Linked DNA regions of Homo sapiens. The gene in region 2 interacts genetically with the main gene of each other region. Each region holds a gene or a part of one and is shown on either strand. Other genes may lie near its edges.

Region 1 (9,441 bases), on a different chromosome or scaffold from region 2:
AGCCACCATGCCCGGCCTCATGGTTTTGTTTTTATTTTGGTTTACAACCATTAGATTCAGACTCTCCTAGAGAAAGAATCTAAGTATTAGGCTTCAAAACCTAGTAATCACTGATAAAAGTCATTTGGATGAGAAAGAAAAGAAACTTTTATCTGAGGAATGTGAGCCTCCTCTAAATTACCTGGCTCAGAGGGCCCTTGAAATGAGACAGCAGTCATGTCCCACTCACCCACCTTGAGCTAAGTAATCACCTCTTGAAGCTGCCTGCTGTATGGACTCTAGACTGACTAACACAAGTAGCTCATACCCTGTAATTCAACAATGCATAGCCAATCACTAACCAATGTTATTTCTATAAACCAATGAGAATTCCTGACAAACAACTTTGTATCAGCTCACTCCTTGTTCCCCATTTTGCCTTTAAAAAGCCTGCTTTGAAAAAAAAAAAGCCAAATGGAGCTCACACCCAAGGTTACTTGGAGAACGTGGCGGGTTATGGAAGCTTCTTTGTAAATCCACCCATCCCACTCCGTTAAAGGATCTCCCAACTCACATTTCTTGTGACCTCCCATGGCTCAGATGTGGACTGGCTCCAGGCAACATTGTAAAGCAAGCCCTTTAGATGCCTCCTCCACTTCTCACCGCTCTCAGCAAAACTGCACTGGACAGTAAATCTGGGTCTGGTCCTGCTGTTGCCATTTACTCTCTGGCACTTGGCATATGTGTGGCTGTCCTGTAAAATGGCATGACAATATCTACCTCACAAGGCTGTGGTGAGAATGAGAAAATACACGAGGAGTACTTGGTCCACTTCAGGTCAGCATACAGCACTTCTTAGATCCAGATGTCCTGTTTCCCTGACCCAACAAGGTGGCCAATGGAACAGATCCCACCACAGGTGAGTTTTCTTAGGCACACTTTTTTTTTTTTTTTCAATTAGTTGCCAATATTGAAACATAAAGAAGTTTCACATATTGACAAAAATGAGATTTTTCAGCTTCCCTTGAAAAAGTGGAGATCTGGCAACACTGGCCAGCGCCCTCCCCTGGTAACAACCACCTGGAGTGGGCAGCTCCGCCTGCCTAGTTCACCACCGTCCCTTTGGTTAAAGGATAATTTTGAAACGAAGGTAAAAATTGCAGCTCTCAAACAGATGCAAAAGAAGAGCACATGCCAAAAATTTTATTTCATTTTTCAGTGAGGAATGTCCAAGGAGAATCCAAAGATCAAAATTACTGAAATAAATGTGCTAATAGAAGCAAAACTGGGGAAGGAGGTCGGGTGAATCTACGCTAAGACACAATGTACACGTCTATAGACAAGAATTATTTTGCTCTGCTATCAGTTACCTACAGCTTACAGAGTTGCAAGATAGCTCCCATAGAATCAAAATCAAACAGCCAGGAAGGAAGGGTCTTTGTCCAGAGTCTAGATTCCAGACAATGCATAGTTTTCCACTGAAGTACAATGGGATCTCCCCCTACACTTCCATTTCCAAGTCCTATTTATGGACTGTCTAGCCCCAGAAAAGATGTGTTTTTCCCCAATCAGATGCTATAAAGCTGTCACTTCTCTTGTTTTTTATTGTTTATTCAGTTATAAAATGTCGAGGGGAAACTAGATAATCTCGATTCCCTTACGATTCCTTAATTCAAATTTCTTACTACTGCTTCCACCCAGTTCCCCGCTACATCCATAAATCATTCATCATTATTTAGCCATTCAGGTCCTTATCAGTGAGGTATAGCTAGTTTTAATTTGTGCTAAGGTGTTAATGGGCAATGTTTTATTAATATGATACTTCATCCTCAACATCTACTTCTACAACTTCAGTTACCATCTCAAACCATCACTCTCCTGAAAGTAGAACCAGATTCAGCTTTAAACACCTGCTGTCAAGAAGGCCCAGACATCTGTCAGCAAAGACCCTTGCCTGGTAAGACTGCCCTTCTCACCCCTGGCCCAGTCTTGGAGAGAGGATAACCACTGCTGGTAAACTGGGGGTGGAGATAAATGAAAATACAGAAGAGTAGCCAGCCACAGGGTCTTCTTGGATCCCAGCTGTGGGGCAGAGAGGAAATTTAACGCTTTAATTATTACACAACACTGGGCATCCTAATTATCAAATTGAGCCTATTATAACTTGAGATTTTATTATAGAATTAAAATTATTACCTGAACAAGACCAGAACAATTTGGGGTCCGATGGAGTTTTCATCTAAGTGTAAAGAAAGACTTCCCACCTCATTCATTCATTTATTCAACAGATGTCTGGGACTGTTTTAGGTGCTGTGGACATAGCAGTGATTATGACAGATAAAAAGTTCTGCTTCAAGTGCTTTATTTTTTTAAAGAGATGGGGTTTCACTCTGTTGCCCAGGCTGGTCTCAAACTCCTGGGCTCAAGTGATCCTCCCACCTCAGCCTCCCAAAGTGCTGGGATTACAGGCGCGAGCCACTGCACCCGGCCTAGTACAGAGGTTTTAAAGGAAAGCCTAGTCACTAAAAATAAAATTCTGGCCGGGTGTGGTGGCTCATGCCAAGCAGATGTTAGTGCCATGCTTGTACAGCCTACAGAACAGTGAGCCAAATAAACCCCTTTTCTTTATTAATTACCCAGCTTCAGGTACTCCTTTATGGCAATACAAAATGGACTCACACACATGCTATCGTATACTACTGCTATCATATACTATGCTATCATATACTATTACTTGTCAGCCCACACAATCCCACCTATGCTCTGGATTCTGGCCCTTCCATTCCCTCTAGGGCTAGGCACCACAAGTTATACCCTCCCTCTCTGCCAACAACATCATCATCTGCTCGCATTAGGGTACTAAAAGATTTCCCCCATCAAGATGGCCTTCATGCTCCCCTCAGCCTGACTGCACTTCAGACAGGCTTCTTCCTAACACGATTAGGCCATTCTTGTATTGCTATAAAGAAATATCTGAGTCTAGGTAATGTATAAAGAAAAGAGGTTTAATTGGCTCATGGTTCTGCAGGCTGTACAGGAAGCGTCACATAGGCATCTGCTTCTGGGGAGGCTTCAGGAAGCTTCCAGTCATGGCAGTAGGTGAAAAGGGAGCAAGCACCTCACATGGTAGGAGTAGGAACAAGGGGTGAGGAGAGTTGCCTCACACTTTTAAATGACCAGATCTTGTAAGAACTCACTATCTTGAGGATTGTACCAAGAGAATGGTACTAAATCATTCATGATAAATCTACTCCATGATCTAATCGCCTCCCACTAGGCCCCAACTCCAACACTGGAGATTACATTGCAACATGAGATTTGGGTGGGGACATCCAAACCACATCACCAATATTAGGCACCTGACTTCCCTTAGAGCATCAGAAAACTTAAAATTATAAATTATTTGAGTTCCCCTTTGAGACATACATCTTCCCTCAGCCTCTTGCCAGTTTTACAACCCAGGACTGTCTTTCTCAAGGACCCAGGGGAACCATTCTCTGAAATGTAACCTCAAAAGGAGATAGCACTCCTTTCTCCCACTTGCTGTGGGATGTGCCTAACTTTGGTGGGCACCTTGCTCCAAGCTGCAGGACTACTTCCTGTCATAAGGATGAGATGTTTACTCTTCCTTTGGATAAAGCCAATCAGCAAACACAGATGACCCATGACCCCCCCCCCCATCCTGGCCCTCACAGGATCCACATGGCTTCTTGTTCTCAGTACTTCTACACTCTCACACAGCCCTCAAAAACCCCACCACCCTCTGCTTCCAGGGAGGTGAGTTCAGACTTTCTTCTAGTCTCTTCTCTATTGTAAATAGCCCCTTTCCTTCTCTCACAAGAATCTTTTCAAGTTTAAGTCTCTCCTTACTTCATTCTCTTGGATTTTCCTTCACAGGAAGGGTTTCTTCAAATACGCCCTCCATTCCACTATACCTCCCATTCACTCCAAGACCTTCTAGAGTGTAACTCTGGGAATGTCTTCCTCCTGAGCATCCTTAAATCCTTTCTGGAACAAGGCATCAGTTTTGTAGCCAGAAAGATCCAGGTTGGAAAACCAATTCAGCTACTTACTAATGGGGCAATTTACCTTCTATAAGTCCCTGTTTCCAGCATTTGGGAAATAGGAATCCCTCCTTCTCAGGAACGGCAGCTATTTTATTAAGTCAGGAAACAAATGTATGGACTCAGATGGGCATGATATTCCCTACTTAAATGATAATGGCTCACATTTACTTAGTTCTTATTATGTGCAGGGCTCAGCATTTTACATGCATGATCTCATTTAATTCCTCATCACTATCCCATCATGTAGTTATTACTATCACCCCCATTTTATAAACAAGAAAACTGAGGCTGACAAAGAGAGGTCAAGTGACTTGTCCAATCTCACAACTAAGAAGTAGTGGAACTCATATTCGAAGCCAAATCTGTATGGAACTCAACTGCTCTGCATCACCTCCAAGGTAAAGGTTAAACTCGCTTGTGCCCCTCCCAACTCACGGACTCTGCCTCCCACTCATAACCACCCACTCATTCATGCCCCACTGCAATTGCTCATGCTGTTCTCTTCCACAGCATGAATGACTGCTTCCTCCTCACCCCGGTCCAACACACACATTTCAGCAGGTTAACATCAAGATGCAGCTTTAAAAATCCGTTTTCTATGGAGTTTTTGCTAATCCTTCCAGAGACCTTTCTTTATCTTCTCAGAGATCTTTGCATATATTCCCATATATGCTTCCATCATGTACCTTTATTATTATTATTATTATTATTTATTTTAGACAGAGTCTCCCTCTGTCTCCCAGGCTGGAGTGCAGTGGTGTGATCTCAGCTCACTGCAACCTCTGCCTCCCAGGTTTCAGTGATTCTCCTGCCTCAGTCTCCCTCCTGGGCTGGGACTATATACAGGTGGGCCCCACCATGCCTGGCTGATTTTTTGTATTTTTTAGTAGAGACGGGGTTTCACCATATTGGCCAGGCTGGTCTTGAACTCCTAACCTCATGATCCACCCCCATCAGCCTCCCAAAGTGCTGGGATTACAGGCAAGAGCCACCGCGCCCAGCCCATAGAACTTATTTTTGTCATTAGGATGAAGAATGTGAGATGATCTTAAGGCCTAGCAAAGCTGTGGGAAATACACAGGAGGGCCAAGGAAGAACATGAACGGAATTTAAAGTAGAATCAGAAGGTAAACAGATTTGCTGAATCACAAAGGTTTAATGATAAATGTAGGTAAATGAGGAAGAAAACATGATAATGGGATGGGTTTACAGTCTTGCAGGCTCAAATCAACTGTGAGAATCAGGTAATGTGCAACCTGAATCCCTAGAAAGGTGTGGCTTGAAGTCTCTATGGGGACAGCCCCTATAAATGGAGACTCAGCCCATGCCTCCTTATGAAGAGAATCACCCTGGATATGAGTGTCCTAGATCTTATGCCCAGCTCCCAGTTACTTGTCATATGCAACCTCCATACACTGAGAGGGTGACATCCACTAGCTTAGGATGGTAAAATTGTTTCCTTAGTCAATGCTACGGCTTCAGTGTTTGTGTGGGGGGCGCCTCCGCCCAGCCAGCCGACCAGTCCGGGAGGTGGGGGGCGCTTCTGCCCGGCCGCCCCTACTGGGAAGTGAGGAGCCCCTCTGCCCGGCCACCACCACGTCTGGGAGGTGTACCCAACAGCTCATTGAGAACGGGCCATGATGACGATGGTGGTTTTGCGGAATAGAAAAGGGGGAAATGTGGGGAAAAGATAGAGAAATCACATTGTTGCTGTGTCTGTGTAGAAAGAAGTAGACATGGGAGACTTCACTTTGTTCTGTACTAAGAAAAATTCTTCTGCCTTGGGATGCTGTTGATCTATGATCTTACCCCCAACCCTGTGCTCTCTGAAACATGTGCTGTGTCCACTCAGGGTTAAATGGATTAAGGGCGGTGCAAGATGTACTTTGTTAAACAGATGCTTGAAGGCAGCATGCTCGTTAAGAGTCATCACCACTCCCTAATCTCAAGTACCCAGGGACACAAACACTGCGGAAGGCCGCAGGGTCCTCTGCCTAGGAAAACCAGAGACCTTTGTTCACTTGTTTATCTGCTGACCTTCCCTCCACTATTGTCCTATGACCCTGCCAAATCCCCCTCTGCGAGAAACACCCAAGAATGATCAATAAAAATAAAAAAATAAAAAATAAAAAATAAAAGAAATATACAGCATCCTGAGATGATACAAGTTAGAGATGAGAAATAGCATTGCTAGAAAATGAAGATAATTACAGTTAAGACAGAAGAAGTAAGACCTGGTGTTCAATAGATCAGTAGGGTAACTAGAGTTAATACTAATCTACTGTACATTTCAAAATAGCTAGAAGAGAGTAATTTGAATGTTACTAGCATAAAGGTAAATGTTTAAGGTGATGGATATCCCAATTACACTGATTGATTATATGAATATATCAAATTACCACATATACCCTGACAATATTTACATCTATTATGTATCAATAAGTTTTTTTTTAAGAATCAAAAAAAGGAAAGAAAGTGTAGATATTCTAAGAGAGGACACTGTGCATTATAGAATTATAGTTCCTTTTCAAATTAAATCCACCCATCTCTGTGCCTAATGGCTGGCTTATGGCCAGGAGGGGTGTCATCCAAAATAACAGACAGCATCTGAAGAAAAAACGTGAAGTTGGGTTTGTGTTCCTTTCCCTAGTACGCTGATTCTGACATACTAGTGTACAGGAGAATAAACTAGAATGTTTAATAAAACTAAAATTCCTGGGCCCTCCTTCCTGAGACTCTGATTCAGTAGGTCTGGGGTGGGGTCAGCAACCTGGATTAATAACAGGGATCACACTGAACTCTGATACAGCTCTTCTGTATGGCAGTGCTTCTCATACTGTAATGTGCATACAAATCTCCTGGAGACCTTGCTAAAATGCAGATTCTGATTCAACACGCCTGGGACAGGACAAAACCTAGGATTCTGCCTTTTTTTTTTTTTTTTTCTGAGACAGGATCTTCAGTCCAAGCTGAAGTGCAGTGGCACTATCATAGCTCACTGTAACCTTGAACTCCCAGGCTCAAGCAATCATCATACCTTAGCCTCCCGAATAACTGAGACTACAGGTGCGTGCCACCATGCCCTACTAACTTTTTGAAATTTTTCTGTAGAGACAAGGTCTTGCCATATTGCCTAGGCTGGTCTCAAACTCCTGGCCTCAAGCGACCGTCCCACCACAGCAACTCAAAAGCGTTGGGATTACAGGTGTGAGCCACTGTGCCCAGCCCGGGTTCTGCATTTCTAACAAGCCCCAAGATGATCCCAATGCTGGTGATCTATGGACCACACTTGGAGTAGCTCACTGTTGACCGTTTTGGGATAAAAAGATTCTGATGCAGGCAGAAAGGGCAGGTGGAGAACTTACCTTCAACACTGATATACCTTTCTCTCTGTAAGGAGACGGGCATTCCCTCATCAAACAGCGTTTTTACTGACATCCCTGTCCCAAATATAGATCAGGAGGCTGAAGTCCAGTGAAACACAATGACCAACCCTGGGTCACCTAGGATGGTGGTATGTTGGCTTCACCACAAATTGTGGGAGTTTTAAATCACACTGTACTGGTGGGATTTGCCAACACTAAACCAAATGTTCATCTGGGTCTTGGCTGCAATTTTAAGAACTTCATTAGAAGGTCATAATTCCTAAGTGCTGGCACTGCTGGCATAGAAGCTGAAGCATCTCCTTTGCATGTGAAGAGAATCTATCTCCACCTATGTGTCTGAAATAATCCAGATGTGGTACTAAGGGCATCGGGCTGGCCTCAGATAGCTCAGATCCAAGAAGACTGTGGAATTACTGCAAGGGGTTTGAGAATCTATGGACAATGTTTTTCTATATATGTACTACTATTTTTAAAAGGCATATGGACATTATTAAAATAAATTTTAAAAACACCTTCAGTGTAAACACATTCAGGTTAGGGGATACTGTATGCTCTCTCATTTAATGGAAATTAAAAAACAATCACATATCACTTGGGGTCTTTACAATACTTTGACATTAAAAAGGGTCCTTGTCTTCTAGAACGTATGCTAGAAGTGGTTTGTCATAGGAAAATTCAAACTCTCTGGCATTTCAGAGAATAAATAGTATATATATCATTATTAAATATGTTTAACAAAAATCATGCTCAAGTTCTAAGTGACTACATTTCTCATTTTGTAAATCAAGGAAGAAAATACTGCAGAATTCAACCTGAAATGTTTTAATAGTGGAACTGTGTACAGGATCCTCTAAAGAGACCGCCTGGCTGGGTGCTCAAACCACATGGGCCGACCCAAAAGACGCCAAAACCAAGAGCTGCTCAGGAGGCACTAAATGTTGACGGTCTTGGCCGGCTTCACATCCTCAATTTCAGCAGACAGCCAGCGGTAAGTGCGATGACGCCGCAGCACCTCAATGGCCTTGAGTTCCAGTGGTGTTGCCTGAATACCAAGGTCTTCTAAGCCAGGCAGGTGAGGCAATTTCATGTCTGTGATGTGCATCTTTGGATAAACAAAGGACCACAGACAATGCTGAAAACTGGCTGAGAACAAAGTGCTATCCTAGCAGGCACTTAAACATTCAAGCTGGCATGAGTCCTATTATTGAGACTTAATTGCTTTCAAAGAATATGTGGCAATTTTCGATTCATGCAAATCACTATAAAAGCAGAACACACAAAGAGGGCTTAAGACAAAAGAGGGCGAGATCACCAAGTATCAGATCGAGGTCCCCAGTGGCAGCCGCGAGCACAGGATGTTGGCACTACATGAGCCATTCTATATACAGATTTCAACAGAAATAAATCTAGGGCAGGGAAGCACAAGTCACCACACTTGCCAGGGGAGGCTGAACAGGAGGGTTTAGGAATAAAATCAGGGCTTAAGCAGAGCTGGTCCATTCCTCAGTCCTCTCACGCCCCTGTTTTCTGAGCACGGGCGTTCTGACTCAGTTTTAACTTTGAATTTAGGAGATAACACAACATTTGTTCCTTGCCCATTAAAAAAAAAAAAAAACAAGTAACTTTTTTTGCTCCAGCTGTACTCAACCTGGTTGACTAATGCTCACTGTAGAGCTAGAAAACCAAACCCATCTTGTTTATAGGGAAAGATAATGAACTGTAAAGTTTGCAAACATCCCAGATTATTATTCAAAACCACATAAATAGAATCCATTTGCACCTAGAGCAGCAGCAATCCCTCATCCTACCCACCTGAAAGTCTGCAATTCTTTTACCAGAGGGCTGTAAGCCAGTCTGCAAACCAAATCCAAAACCTACTCAGGCCACTGTATCAACACTTTCTCAAGTATAAACGTAAGAGACACTTTAGTGTAAGATAAACTGAAGTGTCTGACAACCAGCGATCCTGCCTGATCTTTCATAGACCATGTCTGAAGAAAGTATGTGAG
Region 2 (10,077 bases):
TAGAGAAGCCCAAATACTGGTAGGAAAAGGGTCACCTGACAGCTGGGGCTCCAGGGCCTTAGAGCTGTAACCAGGAGGGAAGAGGTCCAAGGCACCCACAAAGCCATCCTCCTCTTCCACACACTTATCATAGATTAGAGCTGGATCTGGGAGAAAACAAAACAAAACCCAGATACTTTGCTTTCTGAAGTTTCCACTTCAGTGTTCACTAGAACTCCCTCTAGAAGCCTAGCCCAAAAGGCCTTCCTCAACATCAGACTTGCTTGATCTTCATCCTACCAAATTCCAACAGGATATAGTCGGTGCCATCTGGGACGATGGATGGACAATCTCACTCACTAATGTGTTCTCCCAACAAGAAGGGAGCTATAACAGAGCAGGCAAGGTTTCTTTGTTATTTTTCCTCCTGCCCAACATTGTATATGAGCGTGTGTACATGCAAGCACTCACAAACAGTCGACACATCCCAGGTCATCAAGCATGGGCTGGACAGAAGATGAGTTCAATTTTCCAAAGCAAAGGGTCTGGTAAACAGACTCCACAATGCAGGGTTCATGCCTTGGGTAGGGTTGGAATCACATGTGGCCTCTATGAGGATGACTCTGGACGAGTTTTAGTGAGGGTTGCCAGGCCACTACAGGAACCTACCCTCCCTTGCTCACTCTCACAGAGGACACCAGGACACAAGCCCAACTCACGATTACAAAGCTTCTTTAGCGAGGTGATGGAAGAAAGGGAAGACACACTCATCTTGCCCTCAAGCAATTCTTCTGCCGGTTTGGCTTGTCTCAGAAACCTCTTGTATAACTCAGTCTGAAGGGGTGTCAGCCTAAAAAAGGCAGCTGGGTCAGTGGAAAAAGCTAGACCACCCTCCTGCCCTCTGAGAACACCTTGAGAGCCCAGCCATGCTTCAGGAGCTAGGCTTTGACCCACTCCACATCTTTCAGTTGAGTTCAGTACCTACAACAAACGACCTGCTCAATCTTCACAGGCAGATATTTAGAAAGGATATCAGAAGTCCTCCGTATCAGGCATCTAGAGAAAACAGGATAAAAAGGCAAGAGGCTGGTAAAATTGCCATGCTAACTACTGGAATAAAAGCTACCACCCAAAGGACCAAGACTAGCCCTCTTTTACAGTATTAAATGTCAGAGACTCGGCCAGGCGCAGTGGCTCACGCCAGTAATCCCAGCACTTTGGGAAGCTGAGGCGGGCGGATCACCTGTGGTCAGGAGTTCAAGACCAGCCTGGCCAAAATGGAGAAACCCCATCTCTACTAAAAATACGAAAATTAGCCAAGTGTGGTGGCAGGCACCTGTAAACCCAGCTACTCGGGAAGCTGAGGCAGGAGAATCACTTGAACCCAGGAGGTGGAGGTTGCAGTGAGCCGAGATCGCCCCATTGCATTCCAGCTTGGGCAACAAGAGCAAGACTCCATCTCAAAAAAAAAAAAAAAAAAAAAAAAAAAAAAAAAAGTCATCAGACCTATGTCAAACACATCTGTATCAGGGTCTCAATTGTGGGAACAGAGACCTTCCAAACATGCTAGCTTAGACAGGCAGCACTTTCTCTTCCCCTTCAATAGGTTGCCTAGTCTTCAAGAGAAGACTGAGGCTTCCCATTGATACAGGAGCTCTAACAGGAAAAGCAAGTTGTAAATTACTAAGTCCTTAGGGGAGTTTCTGCTTGCATTTGTCCAAATGCCCGCTGCTACATGGCCCCAGGCTAAATGAAATTAAGCATAGACCTCCTGGGAAGACTATGAAGGATAGGTATCAGGCACCTAAGAAGCAGATCTTAAGAAAACACCAATTCTTCTTCCTGCCATCTAATTTTTTTTTTTTGAGACGGAGTCTTGCTCTGTCACCCAGGCTGGGGTGCAGTGGCGCAGCTCAGCTCACTCCAACCTCTGCCTCTCGAGTTCAAGCGATTCTCCAGCCTCTCCCTCCAGAGTAACCGGGACTACAGGTGCACCCCAACCACACCCAGCTAATTTCTGTATATTTAGTAGAGATGGGAGTTTCCCCATGTTGGCCAGGCTGGTCTCGAACTCCTTACCTCAAGTGATCCACTCGCCTCAGCTTCCCAAAGTGGTGGGATTATAGGCGTGAGCCACCATGCCCGTCCTGCCATCTAAAATTGGTAGGGAGAGGTAGCCAGGTAGCCAGGCAGTTGTTGGGAAGGGCAGGAGGACTCTTTAGAATGTAACCTATCAAGTGTGCATACCACCTCTGGACAAAGGAGTCCAGAATGTGCCTACCCTCTGGGTTATGTAACTCCCATGAAAAAGTCAGTCCCCTTAGCCTGGGAGCCACAACCACCTTTCAGATCTTCTCCTACCTGTCACAGAATGACTATGGGGCCTGGGAAGAGAAGCCTAATGTTTCGGGTCTGAGACCAACTGACAGGAAGCTTCTGAAATACTAGTAATGCTCCAAGGTATACTTTGCTCAAGAAGTCCAGCAGCATCAGAGAAAAGCTTCCTCAGCAGGCTGATAAACAGACCAAAACCAGACCACAGAGCCCAAGCCAGAAAGAAAGCAGGCACTTCACCTCCAAGACTCCCTTGTTTATTCAGTGGCCATAGTTAGGACACAGAACCCACTCCCTTCCTAGAATCCCAGCCTTTGAGGGCTCTAGAGAGGCAAAGCCCCCAAAGGATTGGCCATGGATGGTTTGGGAGGCAATTCTAATGACTTCGCTTAAGGTCATTACCTATTCACAATGCTGGTGAGCTCCCGCAGCCGCTCCTCTCCTAGCTGCCTGTCTGCCTCACTAGCAGCAGCGTCTCGACCCTTCAAAATTGGCAATTCAAAATGCTTCTTGAATTCATGGGCAGTCCCTAAACACAGGAGAGAAGGAAAACAGAAGAATGTGGAAAAGGAATGATTTTCCCACAGCTAGTGATGGCAGACTACCTTCTCACAAACCAGCCTTCCTACCAAGAACAAGGCTAAACAAAATATAGGCCAATTTCTGTTTAACAGATCAGAGAGGTATCAAAGCAGTGAAGACTTGAAAGGCCAAAAGTGAGATGATAGGTTAAAATCCAAATATATAATTACTTAGAGTAAATGTAAATGGATTGAATAGTCCACTAAAAAGACAAACATGGCCAGAGTGGATTTTTTTTTTTTCCTGCAATGGAGTCTTGCTCTGTCACCCAGGCTGGAGTGCAATCTCGGCTCACTGCAACCTCTGCCTCCCAGGTTCAGGCAATTCTCCTGCCTCAGCCTCCCGAGTAGTTGGGATTACAGGCACCCCTTCTCCGTGCCCAGGTAATTTTTGTATTTCTAGTAGAGACGGGGTTTCACCATGTTGGCCACGCTGGTCTCGAACTCCTGATCTCGCGATCTGCCCGCCTCAGCCTCCCAAAGTGCTGGGATTACAGGCATGAGCCACCGTGCCCGGCCAATTTTTTTTTTTTTGAGACAGGTTCTCTCCCTGTCGCCCAGGCTGGAATGCAATGGGGCAATCATGGCTCACCACAGCCTCAACCTCCCAAGTAGCTGGGACTACAGGCACATGCCACCACACTCAGCTAACTTTTGTATTTTTTTTGTAGAGATGGGATTTTGCCATGTTGCCCAGGCTGGTCTTGAACTCCTGGGCTCAAGGTACCCTCCCGCCTTGGTCTCCCAAAGTGCTGGGATTACAGTTGTGAGCCACCACACCTGGCCACATTGAGAGAAATTAAAGATGACCTAAACAAGTTGAGAGACAGATCATATTAATATATTGGAAGGTTCCGTATTATAAAAATGAAAGATCTTTCAGAATTTATCTGTTTCAATACAGCCCAATTAAAATCCAGTTAGAGTTTTTTGGTGGGTATGGCAGGCAGTAGGTGTATAAATTGACAAGTTGATTCTAAAATTTACATGGGAATGCAAAGGGCCAAGAATATCTAGGACAATGTTAAGGAGTAAGAATATAGTTGGAGGCTGAGCAGATTGCTTGAGCTCAAGAGTTCAAGACCAGCCTGGGCAACATGGCAAAACCCCACCTCTACCCAAAATACAAAAATTAGCCAGGCATGATGGTGTGTGCCTGTTGTCCCAGCTACTCAGGAGGCTGAGGCAGGAGGATCACTAGAGCCCGGAAGTTAAGGCTGCAGTGAGCCATGATCTCACCACTGCATTCCAGCCTGGGTGACAAAGCGAGACCCTGTGTCAAAAAAAAAAAAAAAAGACTATAGTTGGAATATTCACACTAATGGATATCAAGACTTATTAGGCCACAGTAAATAAAGCAGAGAAGTACTGACACAAGGAGACAAACGGACCAGAGGAACAGAATAGAGTCCATAAATAGAGCAACACATATATGAACATTTGATTTATGAAGAAGGTAGCACTGCAAAGCAATGGGGGAAAGAACGGTTTTTTCAATATATGATGTAGGGTGAACCAGATATCCAAACAGAAAAAGATGGAAGCCAGGCATAGGGGCTCATGCCCATAATTCCAGCAGTTTGGGAGGCTGATACAAGAGAATCATTTGAACCCAGGAATTCAAGACCAGCCTGAGCAACATATGAGACCCCATCTCTATAAAAAATTTAAAAGTTAGCCAATAGTGGTGGCATATGCCTGTAGTCCCAGCTACTCAGGAGGCCAAAGTGGGAGGATTGCTTGAGCCCAGGAAGTTGAGGGTACAGTGAGCTATGACTGCAACGCTGTACTCCAGCCTGGGCAACAGAGACTCTGTCTCAACAAACAAAACCAAACCAGTAGAATAAATTGTAGTGTACTCATAACATGCAATAGTATGCAATTATGAAAATGAACAAACTACTGCTACACATAATGTGGATAAACTTTATAAACATGTTGAACAAAAGAAACCAGATGTAAAGGAATACATACTATATGATTTCATTAACATAAATTCAAAAATAGGCAAAACCAACCTATAGTGTCAGGAAGGAGTTTGCTGCCGGGACAAAAGGAGAGGATAGTGATTAGAAAAGGGGCTGCTGAGAGAGTGTTAGTAATTCATCTGATGGTGGTTACACAAATGTGTTCACTTGGTCATAATCTTGCCACTCAGCAGGTTCTCTGCCTACTCTTGAGCACTGGCAAGTTGGGGTGACACTAACACACCCTTTCACAAATATATGTGTGGTTGCCAGGGATTAGGGGAGGGAGGAATGAGGAGTTTTGATTATTATTACTATTTTAGAGACAGGGCCTTGCTCTGTTGCCCAGGCTAGAGTGCAGTGGCATGATCACAGCCTCCTGAATAGCTAGGACCACCAGCACACACCACCACACCCAGCTAATTTTCTTATTTTGTAGAGACAAGGTCTCACTATGTTGCCCAGGCTGGTCTTGAACTGGCCTCAAGTGATCTTCCCACCCCAGCCTCTCAAAGCACTGGGAGGGGAGGGTAGAGGAGTTATTGGGTAGATTTTAAGTTTAGCAAATAGAAAAAAAAAATCTGAAGATGGATGATGGTGATGGTTGCACAAAGTGAATGTACTTAATACCACTGAATTGTTACATTTAAAAATGGTTAAAATGATTTTTAAAACACACACGTCTGCCCAAGACAGAGCTTGCTCTGAGGCCAAAACTCTTCTAAGGGAGCTAGGATCTGAGGAACAAAAATAATAATTCCACCCTCAGCTCATCATGACACCATTCCCTGTATAGCCCCTGCCACCTCTGCAATGGAAAAATGGCCAACATGGGCTTTGCTGAGTTGCTCAGCAGATCCAAGGCCTCCCAATGGCTTTGCTACTCCCTGACAAGAGAAGCCTTCCTACAAGAATGCCTAGTGACCCACATATAACTAGCATTCTCTTCTTTCTCTCCTCAGCTGGAGTTATACTCCCAAAGACAAGGCAGGGCTCCTCTCTGATGTGGCAAACAAGGCTAGATTCTTACCTAGGATGCCGGAATTAACAAAATGTACCAAGCTGAAATACTCAAGCAGATCATTCTGGATGGGAGTTCCGGAGATGAGCACCCGCCGGCTGGTGTTCAAGCTGTCCAGGGCTTGGTAAGTCTGATTCTCAGAGTTCTTGAGCCTGTGTCCCTGCAAGAGAATCCTTATTCAGAGCGCAATGTGGCATTCCCTATACGGTAGCAAAGTCTCATGTAGACAGGAAAAGAGGAGTCAAAAACATTCCAGGCCGGGCGCCGTGGCTCATGCCTGTAATCCCAGCACTTTGGGAGGCCGAGACAGGTGGATCACTTGAGCCCAGGAGTTCCAGACCAGCCTGGCCAGTGTGGTGAAACCCCATCTCTACAAAACATACAAAAATTAGCTGGGCATAGTAGCTTACACCCATAGCCCCAGCTACTTGGGAGGCTGAGATGGGAAGATCGCTTGAGTCCAGGAGGTCGAGGCTTCAGTGAGCCGTGAGTGCACTGCAATCCTCCCACCTCAGTCTCCTGAGTAGCTGGGACTACAGGCATATGCCACCACTATAGTGACATAGTGAGAAACTGTCTCAACAAAAAACAAAAACATTACAGGTTCTAGGGCCTTGGGAACTAGGCAGGGGGCAGCATGAGAGAGGGTTCACCCACTTAACTATGGAGAATATTAGGCTCAAAAGACAGACTTCCTGTTTCCAGACCAGTGCTATACCCATAAAGCAAAGATTCCCTCTGTTCCTTTCCATCCCTTTCCCTGCCCCACCTCCAGAGCCTTGGCAGCCCACCTATACTCTTCAGAGATCATGTGGACATATGACAAACCCATGCTTTCAGGGAGTCCTCCCCTCCACATCAGCCTACCCAACTCAGAACCTTCTGAGCCAGACGCCTTCTGTATTAGACTCCAGGCCTTGTCTGGGCCATCAGTGTTAAAGGGACTTGGACCAGGCTCCATGTCCCACCAGAATCCTCACAGCTAGTAGAGCTAAAGAGCTTCCCTCTGCTTCCCTTCACATCTCTTCCCCAATCTCTATTCTCCCTGTCCTGTCCTCCCATTCTCTCCACACCTCTACTACTTCTTTTAAGCCTTTTTCAAGAAAATCATAAAGGACAACCTTCCCTCTTTCTCCAAGAACTACATGGGCAAGATTAGGCCCATACCTTTTCTACATCCAGCCCCATACTGGGGAAGGCACACAAAACTCAACCACTCAACCAAGAATCAGCAATCAGTCTTGCTCCCTTGGGTCAGGCTTTGACAACGCAATTAAATGCAGACCCTTCACTGACTCTTCCATCTATAGCATCAAGTCCAAGCTCTTTAAGCTCACTAGCTTAGCATTCAAAGCCCTTCTCAATGAGGCCCCAGTGAACTTCTCTGACACTCTCCAAGCTTGTCACGGTCCAGGAATCCTGACCTTGTCACTCCTAATGCTGGCTTTCCTTATGTCTCTTTGCCCATGCCACCCCTCTGCCTAGAGCTCTTTTCCACAGGCAAGTTCCTCAGATGTCACCTCCTATGCAAAGCCTTCCTCAGTGACTCCAGGCTGCTTGTCTCTCTCAACTCTGTGCTCCTGTGGCACTATATACGTAATGGCTGCTACTATTTAGTGAACCCGTTTAATGTGGTAGGCATGGTACTAACTAAACACTTTACCTGTATTCTGTTCTGTAATCCACACGAATGGAAATTGTATTATCCATTTTAGAGATGAAGAAACTAAGATTCAGAGAGGTAAACAGTTATCCAAAATCATGCCGGTAGAAAGTAGCAGAGCTGGGATTTGAACTCAGGTCTGTATGACTCTGAGTCTGGACACTGTACCACTCTGCCCTCATCCATAATATATATACTAGAGTACTAATCACACTCTACTGTACTTTATCTTCTCAACTAGGCAGAGACTAGGATTTCTTAAGGCAGAGACTATGTCAGATTCGCCTGTATAATTTCAGTGTATAGGACAAAGCTCAGTGAATATTAGTTGAATGAAAGAATGAAATAATGACCAATGTTGCTATTAAAGATTAAATAAACCAACGGGGCATGGTGGCTCATGCCTGTAATCCTAGCACTTTGGGAGGTTAAGGCAAGTGGATCACCTGAGGTCAGGAGTTTGCGTCCAGCCTGGCCAACATGGTGAAACCCTGTCTCTACTAAAAATACAAAAATTAGCTGGGTGTGGTGGCATGTGCCTGCCTCCCCAGTTCAAGCAATTCTTGTGCCTCAGCTTCCTGAGTTGCTGGTATTACAGGCATGTGTTACTATGCCGGGCTAACTTTTGTATTTTTAGTAGAAACAGGGTTTCACCATGTTGGCCAGGCTAGTCTTGAAATCCTGACCTCAAGTGATCCGCCCATCTCAGCCTTTCAAAGTCCTGGGATTACAGGTGTAAGCCACCGCATTTGGCCTAGAAATTTAATTAAGAAAAAAAAAATTATTAGAGGCTCCAAGTACTAGCCCTAAAAAAAGCCTTAGACTTCTGAACTGAAGAGGGAAATGAGACTTGAAAGTCAGAGGAAATTACCCAACAGGTCCAGGGGAAATGGGCACCAACAATTAGATCTTCTAAACTGAAGCTCCCTGAGGGACAGCATTGTGAGATCTCCAGGGCTTGACACATAAAAGGCACTTAATAAATAACCCAGCGAATGAAATGGGCTGCCACACTATCCTGTCTCTGCAAAAGAGAAAGCCAACCCCAGCTCCCTATTGGACCAGTCACTAAGGATCCACATGGGTCTCAATGAGGAGCACAGGGACAACCCTTCCATACCCAAGGCAAGCTTCTTCCTGCACCAAGCATCCAAGGCAGAGAGGGATAGGAAAAAGAGCCACGACTTGGAATCTCACACCTGCATTCACATTCCAGCTTACTATGTACTCGCTAGGAGAACCTGGGCAAGTCACTACGCACTTCCCTGAGTTTGTCTCCTAATCTTTAAGATTGAGATGACGATGACGTCAATCCCTCTGCTATTTATACACTTGTACAAAGTGCTCCCATATATCCTCTCTTGATCTGTATCATATCCCTTTCAAGTAGCCCATGTGCCATCCACTCTACAGATGAAGAAACAATCTCAGAGCAGTCTCATCTGTGGAAAGTCACGCTTGTAAGTGGCAAAGCCAGAGCTGATCCCGTGTCTTTTGATTGAGGATCAAAGATTTTGTACATAGAAGTTATTATGAAAAACTGTGTTCCAGAGAAAAGCGTTACTGGGAGGAAGATGCTGTGGGAGCTGAGAACATGAAAGCCTGAAATGGCACCTTCCCTTTCCAGGGTCTGAACAGGACAAACCCTCTCCTTCCCTGGAGTAAGGTGACCATCTTTTCAGGACTTTTGGTTCCTCAGATCTCTGACAGTTGACAAAATAAAAGGTAAACAAGTAGAAAGGTAAACAGCCAAGGGGCTGCAGTGTGATAAGAGGCAGCCTCATCCCTTGTGCCCTGCACAGAGTCAGCTCATAAAACAGGACAGAGTGGGGAAGAAAAAAACACTAAGGAGTAGAAAAAGGCTGGGCACGGTGGCTCAAACCTGTAATCCCAGCACTTTGGGAGGCCAAGGCCGCAGATTATTTGGGGCCAGGAGTTCGAGACTAGCCTGGCCAACATGGTGAAACCCCATCTCTACTAAAAATACAAAAATTAGCCAGAGTGGTGGTGCACGCCTGTAATATCAGCTACTCGGGTGGCTGAGGCAGGAGAATTACTTAAATATGGGAGGCAGAGGTTGCGGTGAGCCAAGATCACGTCACTGCACTCCATCTGGACAACAGAACAAGACCCTTGTCTCAAAAAAAAACAAAAAGTAGAAAAAAATTTAGATGCTCCCTAATCCTCAAAGGCTCAACAGCTACAGCCTGCCTTCCTCTCCCACAATGCTTTGGACCTGGCTCCTGGCATAGTCCCCCTCCACAGTGATGAAGCAGATGTCAGGGCCTTGAACCACAGGGCAGTAACATGCATACCTCACCTCAACCTGGTAAGTTCCCTACTCCTACCAGGAAGTTGGGAGTTTGAAGACCCGCCAATGACTGACCAGAAAATAGCTCACAACTAGAAAGCATGGTACCCAAAAGCAAGCTTTTTCCCTCTGTCCCCTCTCTGAAGTTCCTCAGACAACTGGGCTAATCTACAGTACCCAGAGCTGAGCCTAGCCTGACAACTGGTTGACAGATAGGGCCA

The links. A genetic interaction does not mean that the proteins touch.
Region 1: changes in RAD54L (region 2) and NDUFA9 together harm fitness more than expected from each alone (negative genetic interaction), as found in Homo sapiens cells (one study listed by BioGRID).

What each region holds. Positions count from the first base shown.
Region 1 is NC_000012.12:4,686,031-4,695,471, reverse strand, and holds the end of NDUFA9 (NADH dehydrogenase [ubiquinone] 1 alpha subcomplex subunit 9, mitochondrial precursor), read right to left. Parts: intron 8,535-9,441; coding exon 8,364-8,534; 3' UTR 1,155-8,363; downstream 1-1,154. UniProt on the Homo sapiens protein: Accessory subunit of the mitochondrial membrane respiratory chain NADH dehydrogenase (Complex I), that is believed not to be involved in catalysis. Required for proper complex I assembly.
Region 2 is NC_000001.11:46,263,424-46,273,500, reverse strand, and holds part of RAD54L (DNA repair and recombination protein RAD54-like), read right to left. Parts: intron 6,043-10,077; coding exon 5,892-6,042; intron 2,843-5,891; coding exon 2,716-2,842; intron 1,036-2,715; coding exon 961-1,035; intron 830-960; coding exon 699-829; intron 147-698; coding exon 36-146; intron 1-35. UniProt on the Homo sapiens protein: Plays an essential role in homologous recombination (HR) which is a major pathway for repairing DNA double-strand breaks (DSBs), single-stranded DNA (ssDNA) gaps, and stalled or collapsed replication forks.